Linked DNA regions of Homo sapiens: regions 2 and 3 are each linked to region 1. The links come from fine-mapping of genetic effects on plasma protein levels. A gene starts in region 1. Each other region holds a variant in brackets. All regions are shown on one strand. Distances are from middle to middle. Region 1 holds the start of VEGFA (vascular endothelial growth factor A). Region 2 has its middle 43 kb from the start of LINC03040. Region 3 has its middle 37 kb from the start of MRPS18A.

Region 1 (2,758 bases):
AGTGACAGCAAGCCCCCTCTCCCTCCTGCGCCCTGCCCCCTCCACGCTCTCTGCCCTCCCGCGGTCCAAGGTCCGAGCACCCCCTGCCCACTGGTCTCTGGCTCCCGCCCCCGCTGCTCAGACTTCCAGTTCGTCCGGGACCAGCGGCCGGGAGCAAACTTCAGCCGGCAGCGGCAACGCAAGCCCAGCCCCCTCGGCCTCCTCCTCCGGCTCCCGCCCTCGGCTGGTCGGCCCAGATCGTACGTGCGGTGACTCCGGTGGGTGGGCAGGGCCCGCGTGGGCGGTGAGCCTCTCTCCGGGTACCCTCCCACCTAGCGCGCGCGCCCCCTCCCCCTGCACCTAAGACGACAGAGGGGGACGCCGCACGCCTGGTGCCCATGGACCCGCGTGGGGCACGGAGCCCCCACGCGCGCGCTCGCACGCACGTCCCCAGCCGGGAGAGGCGCTCGCAGCGGCCCGCGGCGCCAGCAGGGCACGACCGCTTACCTTGGCATGGTGGAGGTAGAGCAGCAAGGCAAGGCTCCAATGCACCCAAGACAGCAGAAAGTTCATGGTTTCGGAGGCCCGACCGGGGCCGGCGCGGCTCGCGCTCCCTCTCCGGCTCGGGCTGTGGGGCGGCCCGCTCTCCTCGGCGCCTCGGCGAGCTACTCTTCCTCCCCGGCCCGAGGCCCGGGCCAGGGCCTGGGGAGCGCGCGCGGCTGGAGCACTGTCTGCGCACACCGCCGCCTCACCCGTCCATGAGCCCGGCTTCCGAGCGCCGAGTCGCCACTGCGGCCCCCTCTCCTCTTCCTTCTCTTCTTCCTCCTCCCCCTCCTCCGGCTGCGGCTCCTCCCGGCCCGAGCTAGCACTTCTCGCGGCTCCGCTCGGCTCGGCTTCCCCCGCGCGGACCACGGCTCCTCCGAAGCGAGAACAGCCCAGAAGTTGGACGAAAAGTTTCAGTGCGACGCCGCGAGCCCCGACCCCCTCCACCCCGCCTCCGGGCGCGGGCTCCGGCCCCTGCCCGCGGCTCGCCGCCGCGTCCACTGTCCGCCGCCGGCCGGGGAGGAGGTGGTAGCTGGGGCTGGGGGCGGTGTCTGTCTGTCTGTCCGTCAGCGCGACTGGTCAGCTGCGGGATCCCAAGGGGGAGGGCTCACGCCGCGCTCCGGCGGTCACCCCCAAAAGCAGGTCACTCACTTTGCCCCTGTCGCTTTCGCTGCTCGCACGCCCGCGCGCTCTCTCTGACCCCGTCTCTCTCTTCCTCGACTTCTCTCTGGAGCTCTTGCTACCTCTTTCCTCTTTCTGCTGGTTTCCAAAATCCACAGTGATTTGGGGAAGTAGAGCAATCTCCCCAAGCCGTCGGCCCGATTCAAGTGGGGAATGGCAAGCAAAAATAAATTAAAACGAGAAACAATACAGTTTTAAAAAAAAATGTTTAAGAAAAAAGAAGAGGGATAAAACCCGGATCAATGAATATCAAATTCCAGCACCGAGCGCCCTGGCCGGTGAGTCCGCTGACCGGTCCACCTAACCGCTGCGCCTCCCGACAGAGCGCTGGTGCTAGCCCCCAGCGCCACGACCTCCGAGCTACCCGGCTGCCCCAAGCCTCCGCGATCCTCCCCGCTACCAGCCGACTTTTAAAAAAAAAAGGGGGGGGCGCATGGCTCCGCCCCGCCGGGACCCCGCCCCCGGCCCGCCCCGGGGGGCGGGGACAGGCGAGCCTCAGCCCTTCCACACGCGGCTCGGGCCCGGGCTCTGCGGACGCTCAGTGAAGCCTGGCCCGCAGCCCGCCGCAATGAAGGGGAAGCTCGACCCCCACCAAGGTTCACAGCCTGAAAATTACCCATCCGCCCCCGGAAACTCTGTCCAGAGACACGCGCCCGCGGGGCATTGGCGAGGAGGGAGCAGGAAAGTGAGGTTACGTGCGGACAGGGCCTGAGAGCCGTTCCCTCTTTGCTAGGAATATTGAAGGGGGCAGGGGAAGGCGGAGAGCCGGACAGGGACGGGTGGGGAGAGGGACACACAGATCTATTGGAATCCTGGAGTGACCCCTGGCCTTCTCCCCGCTCCAACGCCCTCAACCCCACACGCACACACTCACTCACCCACACAGACACACACGTCCTCACTCTCGAAGACGCTGCTCGCTCCATTCACCCAGCTTCCCTGTGGTGGCCGAGCGCCCCCTAGTGACTGCCGTCTGCACACCCCGGCTCTGGCTAAAGAGGGAATGGGCTTTGGAAAGGGGGTGGGGGGAGTTTGCTCCTGGACCCCCTATTTCTGACCTCCCAAACAGCTACATATTTGGGACTGGAGTTGCTTCATGTACAGAGAGCCCAGGGCTGGGCACAGGGGCCACAGTGTGTCCCTCTGACAATGTGCCATCTGGAGCCCTCATCTGGCCTGCAGACATCAAAGTGAGCGGCAGCCAACAGGCTGGAGTGACTGGGGTCCTTTGGGAAGTGTCCAGGGATGCTTCCCAGGGGAGAAGAATTTGGCACCAAGTTTGTGGAGCTGAGAACGGGAAGCTGTGTGGTTCCGGGGTTAGTCAGTGACTGGGAGGGAAGAGGACCTGTTGGAGCCCACGTATGCACTGTGGAGTCTGGCAAAACCCAAAGGGGGAGGCAGCTGGGCAGACAGAGGCCCTTGTTCCTGCTGCCCCCCCAACCCCAGATGTTGCCAGGGAACTGAGGCCAGGGGGCTGGTGGGGGCGGGTGGAGGCCAGGGCCTGCGTGATGATTCAAACCTACCCGCCAGCACTAAGGAACGTCTGTAGGCCAGC
Region 2 (2,758 bases), 190 kb before region 1:
TTTTTTTTTTTTTGCCGTGCACACAACCTCTTTCATGATTTCCATGTTTGGCTCATTTGTACATCCTGTTAAGTCAGGCGCTACATCTGGACACAGTCTTTTCCAGCAAGAATTTATTGTTTAGGGCTTGATGGCTTTCACAGCTTTCTCTATAACAACGGCATCTTCACAGGTGTAATTCTTCTAGACTTTCATGTTGTTCTCTCTATCAGGGTTCTCTTCCATAGCGTTGACAATCCTTTCCATAGAATACCAAGTGTAATGAGCCTTAAAGGCCCTTATGATCCCCCCGATTTAGCGGCTGAATTAGAGACATCATTTTGGGGGCAAATAGATCACTTCGACACCTTCAGTATTGAAGTCATGGGGTTCTGGGTAGCTAGGGGTATAGCCTAATATCAAAAGAACTTTAAAAGGCAGTCCCTTAATGTCAAGGTACTTCCTGACTTCAAGGACAAAGTATCATTGAACAAATCCAGAAAAAGTGTTCTTGTTGTTCAGGCTTTCTTCTTATTATTATTTTTTAAAAATAAAGACAGCATCCTGCTCTGTTGCCCAGGGTAGAGTGTAGTGCAGTCATAGCTTATTGTAACCTTGAACTCCTGGGCTCAACCAATCTCCCATCTCAGCTTCCCAAGTAGCCAGGATTACAGGCCCACACCACCATGCCAGCTAATATTTTAAATTTTTCCTCTCCTTCTTCTTCTCCTTCCTCCTCTCCCTCCTCCTCCTCCTCTTCTTCTTCTTCCTCTCCTCCTCCTTCTCCTTCTCCTTCTTCTTCTTCTCTTTTTGTAAAGACAGGGTCTCGTCATGTTGTCCAGGCTGATCTTGAATTCCTGGCCTCAAGGGATCCTGCCTGGGCCTCCCAAAGTGTTGGGATTAGAGGTGGGAACCCCCACTGCTGGGACAATTCAGGCCTTCTTGTTGTACAATCAAAAGACTGCAGCTGTTTACCTTTTCCCCTTGAGGCTCAAGGGTTAGTAGCTTTATGGATAAAGGCAGTGCTTATTATAAACCCAACTGCATTTGCACAAAACAATAGCATTTGCCTATCTTTTCCTGCTTAAGTCCTGGTGCTCACTTCCGTTTCTTATTAATAACTGTTCTTTGTGGTGTTTCTTCCATCCTCCTCAAGAATAGGTCACTTTTCTCCGCATTAAAAACCTGTTCAGGCAGATATCCTTTCTCCTCAATGATTTTCTTAATTCTGGGAATTTGCCACCCCTTGGTTGGCAGAAGCAGCTTCTGTTATCTTAATATTTTTCAAGCCAAACCTCTTTTTAAAATTATTAAACCATCCTTTGCTGGCATTAAATTCTCCAGCTTTAGAGTCTTTACCTTCCTTTTGCTTTAACTTGTCATATAATTACTTCACTTCTTGAATATTAGGTATACTTTTCTTATAGCAATCCTGCACTCACCATACAAGCTGATAAAAAGACATTTTACAAAAAGTGCAAGGTTTTGTGCCTACTGGCATAGCTGCAGTGATGGCTTCACAAATTTCCTTTTCTTTTTTTCACGGTGGTCCTTACAGTGGATT[C/T]GTTTATCTTGAAATGGTGGGTAACCACAGCTGCAGACCTCAGTCTACAGTATATATCAAGCAATTCAAGTTTTTCTTGAATGTAATGACTTTCCTCTGCTTCTTGGGAGCACTTCCAGCATCACTAGTGGCACTTCGTATAGATCCCATGGTGTTATTCAAAGTTTACAGCATTGCACTAAATACAATGAAAGATATGTGAGAACAGCAAGAGATCTTTCTTTACTGTGATACACAATTTACTGGAGAGATGAACTGCTCATGCAGAGATGATTAACATCGCATGGCATTTTAAGCCCTACAACACTTGAGTTCACCACAATAGCAACAAGAGGTAGCTACGAAATTATTATAGCAGTACAGCATACACTACAGTTAATTTTATGCAGTTATAACTTAATGCTGTATTTTTATGTTTACATTACTCTCAACTATGAATAGTGTCATTTACAATCTGTGTTTGTGTGTGTACATTTTGATAAATTATTAACTTTTTATATTAGATTTGTGTACATTTTATGGTAGTAAATGATAAAATGACTAGTAGCTACACGTGTTTTATGCATTCATGACATACCTGCCTTTTTCTTATTTTTTTTTTGATATTGACAGGCTACACAGTTTGCCTGCAGGTTTTTTCAAATTGTTGCAAAATCTCCAAAACATTTACCAATATATTTACTGAGAAAAATCCATGTATAAATGGACCTGTGCAGTTCTAACCTGTGTTGTTCAAGGGTCAATAGTAATTTTATAATTAGTATTTTATGCAATTGTAGTTTAGATAAGTTAAAAGAAAAATGTATTTATAGTGTCTTACATTTACCTATGTAATTACCTTTTTCGTGTGTTCTTTACTTCTTCAAGTGGATTCATGTCACTGTCTGATGTCATTTCCTTTCAGCCCGAAGGACTTCCTTGAGTACTTCTTGTAGACACGCATGCCAACAACAAATTCTCACCCTTTGTTTACCTGGGAATGTCTTTATTTCAGTTTCATTTTAAAGGAATACTTGTATTAGATATGACTACTTGGTTGACAGTTTTTGTCTTCTTTTCAGCACTTTGAATATGCCATCCCACCTCCTTCTGGCCTCCATTGTTTCTGATCTGAAATCAGCTGTTAATTATATTGTAGTTCCCTTCTATGTAATGCATCCTTTTTCTCTTGCTGCCGTCAAGATTTTCCCTGTCTCTGTCTTTCAACAGGGTTAC
Region 3 (2,758 bases), 45 kb after region 1:
AGTAGCTGGGACTACAGGTGTGCACCACCACACCTGGCTAATTTGTTTACTTTTTGTAGAGATAGGGGTTTCATTATGTTGCCCAGGCTGGTCTCAAACTCCTGGACTCAAGCAATCCTCCCGCCTTGGCCTCCCAAAGTGCATCATTTGTTATTTTTAGGTAGATGCATAAGCAGATCATCAAAACATTAGGTGGTTAGTGCAGAATAAGGCAATGTAGATCCAGGGCATCCTGGGAGCACTGGAGAGGAGCCCCAACGTGCCAGGTACAGCCCAGCCAGGGAAGAGAGTCAGGACACTGGGCATAGATGCCCTCCCTGCGTCACCTAACCCTGCATCCCTGGAACCCACTGGCCACCCCCAAGGATGTTGCCTTTCTGAAGTGCTGGAGCAAGTGGAGAGGGGCAGAAGAAATGCATGTGCCCCACCTCCCTGCGGACAAGAGGGGAGAGAGGGTACACAGGTGGCCACAGGCAGGCAGAATAGGGCCTGCTTTCATGGGCCACCTCCTCCCAGGACCCTGGCTCTCCAAAGTGCCTGCCACCCTGTCTGGTGATAGAAATGCTGGGGAGTTGGGAGGAGGGCGGGTGCCCTAACACTCAATCCACATGGAGCAGAATGAAGGGGCAACTCCCCTTTCATGGAGTTCTTTCCTAGACCCTAGAGTTCAAGAGTTCAGGACTCCTGTTCACAGGAGCACACTATCTTTCCACCACTCTCAGCAGGGAGTATCACTGCCCCCACCTCTTAGATGAGTACATGGAGGCTGAGAAGGGACACTGATCTTTCTCAGTCACTCAGTTCAGAAGTGGCAGCGGAAAGTCAGCATCTGGGCTGGCTGCAAAGTGGCCACTCTTCTTCTCCTTCCCCGTTCTGCTTCTCCCAATTTGGGGTGCCCAGGAAAGCCTATTATGTAGGGAGGGCAGGGCTGTGAGACTCAGGGGAGGTGGGGGAGTGAGAGGCAGATATTGCTGTGTAAAATGACCTGGATCTGTGGTGAGGGCTCCAGGATTGGTGGAGAGAGCAGGGTACAGAACTGGGTTGGGGGGTTACAGCCAGGAAGAGATGGAACCACAGGGAGGAAGCCCCGCCTGCCCCCCATCCTCATCACAATAGGCATCGTGGCAAACAGAAGGAGGAAGGGGCAAGGCCCCAACCCCTCCTCCACAGTATCACCTGGCCAGGCAGCCCCATTCCCAGCCCTGCGCCCACAGGGACCAGGATGTGGGCAACTAGGGATAGACAAGCCCTGACGTAGACAACTCTGCGACCCCCATGCCTGGCCTCCTTAGCCAC[C/A]AGCCAAATACTCTTTGTGGTTTGGGCACCGGCCAAGCGCCCACACCCCAGCTCACGGGACCACAGCTTCCCTGTTGCATCAGGTTACTGAGCGCGTGCACACGCCCCAGAGCCTGTTACACAACTGTGGTGCGCGTGCGCAGCACCCACACACCCTGGGTGGCTCCACAGTCCCACAGAAGAAACCGCAGCCTTGCCTGGAGTGCACAGGGCCCGCTCCAGACTCTTGGCATTGAGAGCTGGAGATGGGGGTTAGGGGGAGGAGGGTGCCTGGTCTGGGGCCAGGATCTGTGAGCTCCACCACTGGCTCATTGTGAAACACCAGTAAGTCATGGCCCCTCTCTGAGCCTGTTTCCCCACCTAGAAAGGAAGCTCACCTTCCACCCTGATGATCTACATACCCAATTGCCCTCTGCGCCCCTCAACACCCTCCAAACCACCACCACCATCTCCCTTCCTGTAGGAATGTCAGCAAGAGAGGGAAGCAAGAATCTGCACAGAGAGGAGACGGAGGGGTGGATAAGATGACCTCTAAAAGGGCCCTTTCCTCTTGGGGCTTCTCCCCAGTAGAAGTGGGTGTGCCTTGAGGGGAGCTCCATCATCACCCTTTCTCCAGGAAGACCGAGGACAGTGGCCAGAGCTCTTTTGAGAAGAGACTAAGGAGCAGGAGGCAGGGGATGGGTAACTTTCTTCTGGAGGCAGGGGATGGGTAACTTTCTTCTTTGTAGTTTTTTCCCCCACTTTTCTACAACAGACATGTGTCACACACTACTTGCAATGGGTGGAGGAGGGAGTGTGTTGGGAGGGCAAATGCTCTTGGGGAAGGTTAATGTATCAAGCACACCCCCTTTCCCACCCTTAAGCCAGCATTTCCCTAACTATGTTGTGGCAAACGGGCTCAAATAAGCACAGGAAACCTGAGTTAAACACAGTCTAACAGGTTTTCTTGACTGCAGGACTTCTCTGAGCCTCTAACATGCTAATCTGGGCTACAACCCTCAGAGACGAGGGACGAGACAAGGAAACGCATTTAATCTCAGAGCTCTTTATAGGGGAGCATCTCAAGATGCACTTACTAGGCACTGCTGGAACTCAGAGTCCGGTGGCACGCCAGGCCCACACCCCATTGGTGAAGAGCCTCCATGGAGGAGAGACAGCCTAGGCCCCGGAGGACACCAAGGGCAGATGCCCTAGGCAGCTACCTCCCACTGCGTGAGTCCAATCCCAATCCTTCTCCCCAGAACTGGTCCAAGACCTGTATCCCAGTTACGAAGGCAGGTAGTAATGTGGGAGGGCCCATGGGTGGCCCTGCCGCTTCCCTGAAGTTACTTAGATCTGCAGTGACCCCTGCTGGCTCTAGCCAAAATCACCCCTCCCCTTACTCCTCACCTTCCTCCTTGCCAATCCCTGGCCCTCCAGCCTCTTCCTCATTAGCCTTGACGCAGCCCCATCAGGACCCACC

What was found. PIP is the posterior inclusion probability: the model's chance that the variant is causal. Protein levels are from the aptamer-based SomaScan assay of Sun 2018.
Region 2: its variant is fine-mapped to the plasma level of the VEGFA protein (Sun 2018, PIP 0.95).
Region 3: its variant is fine-mapped to the plasma level of the VEGFA protein (Sun 2018, PIP 0.95).

The regions. Positions count from the first base shown.
Region 1 is chr6:43,769,041-43,771,798 of GRCh38, reverse strand. VEGFA (vascular endothelial growth factor A) reads right to left here and starts at 1,588. Exons shown (of 8, transcript NM_003376.6): 1 at 487-1,588. The coding sequence starts at 1,092. RefSeq lists silencers at 1-138, 209-1,148, 1,526-1,775 and enhancers at 1-397, 398-1,163.
Region 2 is chr6:43,956,656-43,959,413 of GRCh38, reverse strand. No RefSeq gene overlaps it. Among named protein-coding and RNA genes, the nearest start is that of LINC03040, 43 kb to the left of the region's middle. The variant C/T (reference allele first, on the strand shown) is at 1,544.
Region 3 is chr6:43,723,896-43,726,653 of GRCh38, reverse strand. No RefSeq gene overlaps it. Among named protein-coding and RNA genes, the nearest start is that of MRPS18A, 37 kb to the right of the region's middle. RefSeq lists an enhancer at 1,624-1,713. The variant C/A (reference allele first, on the strand shown) is at 1,297.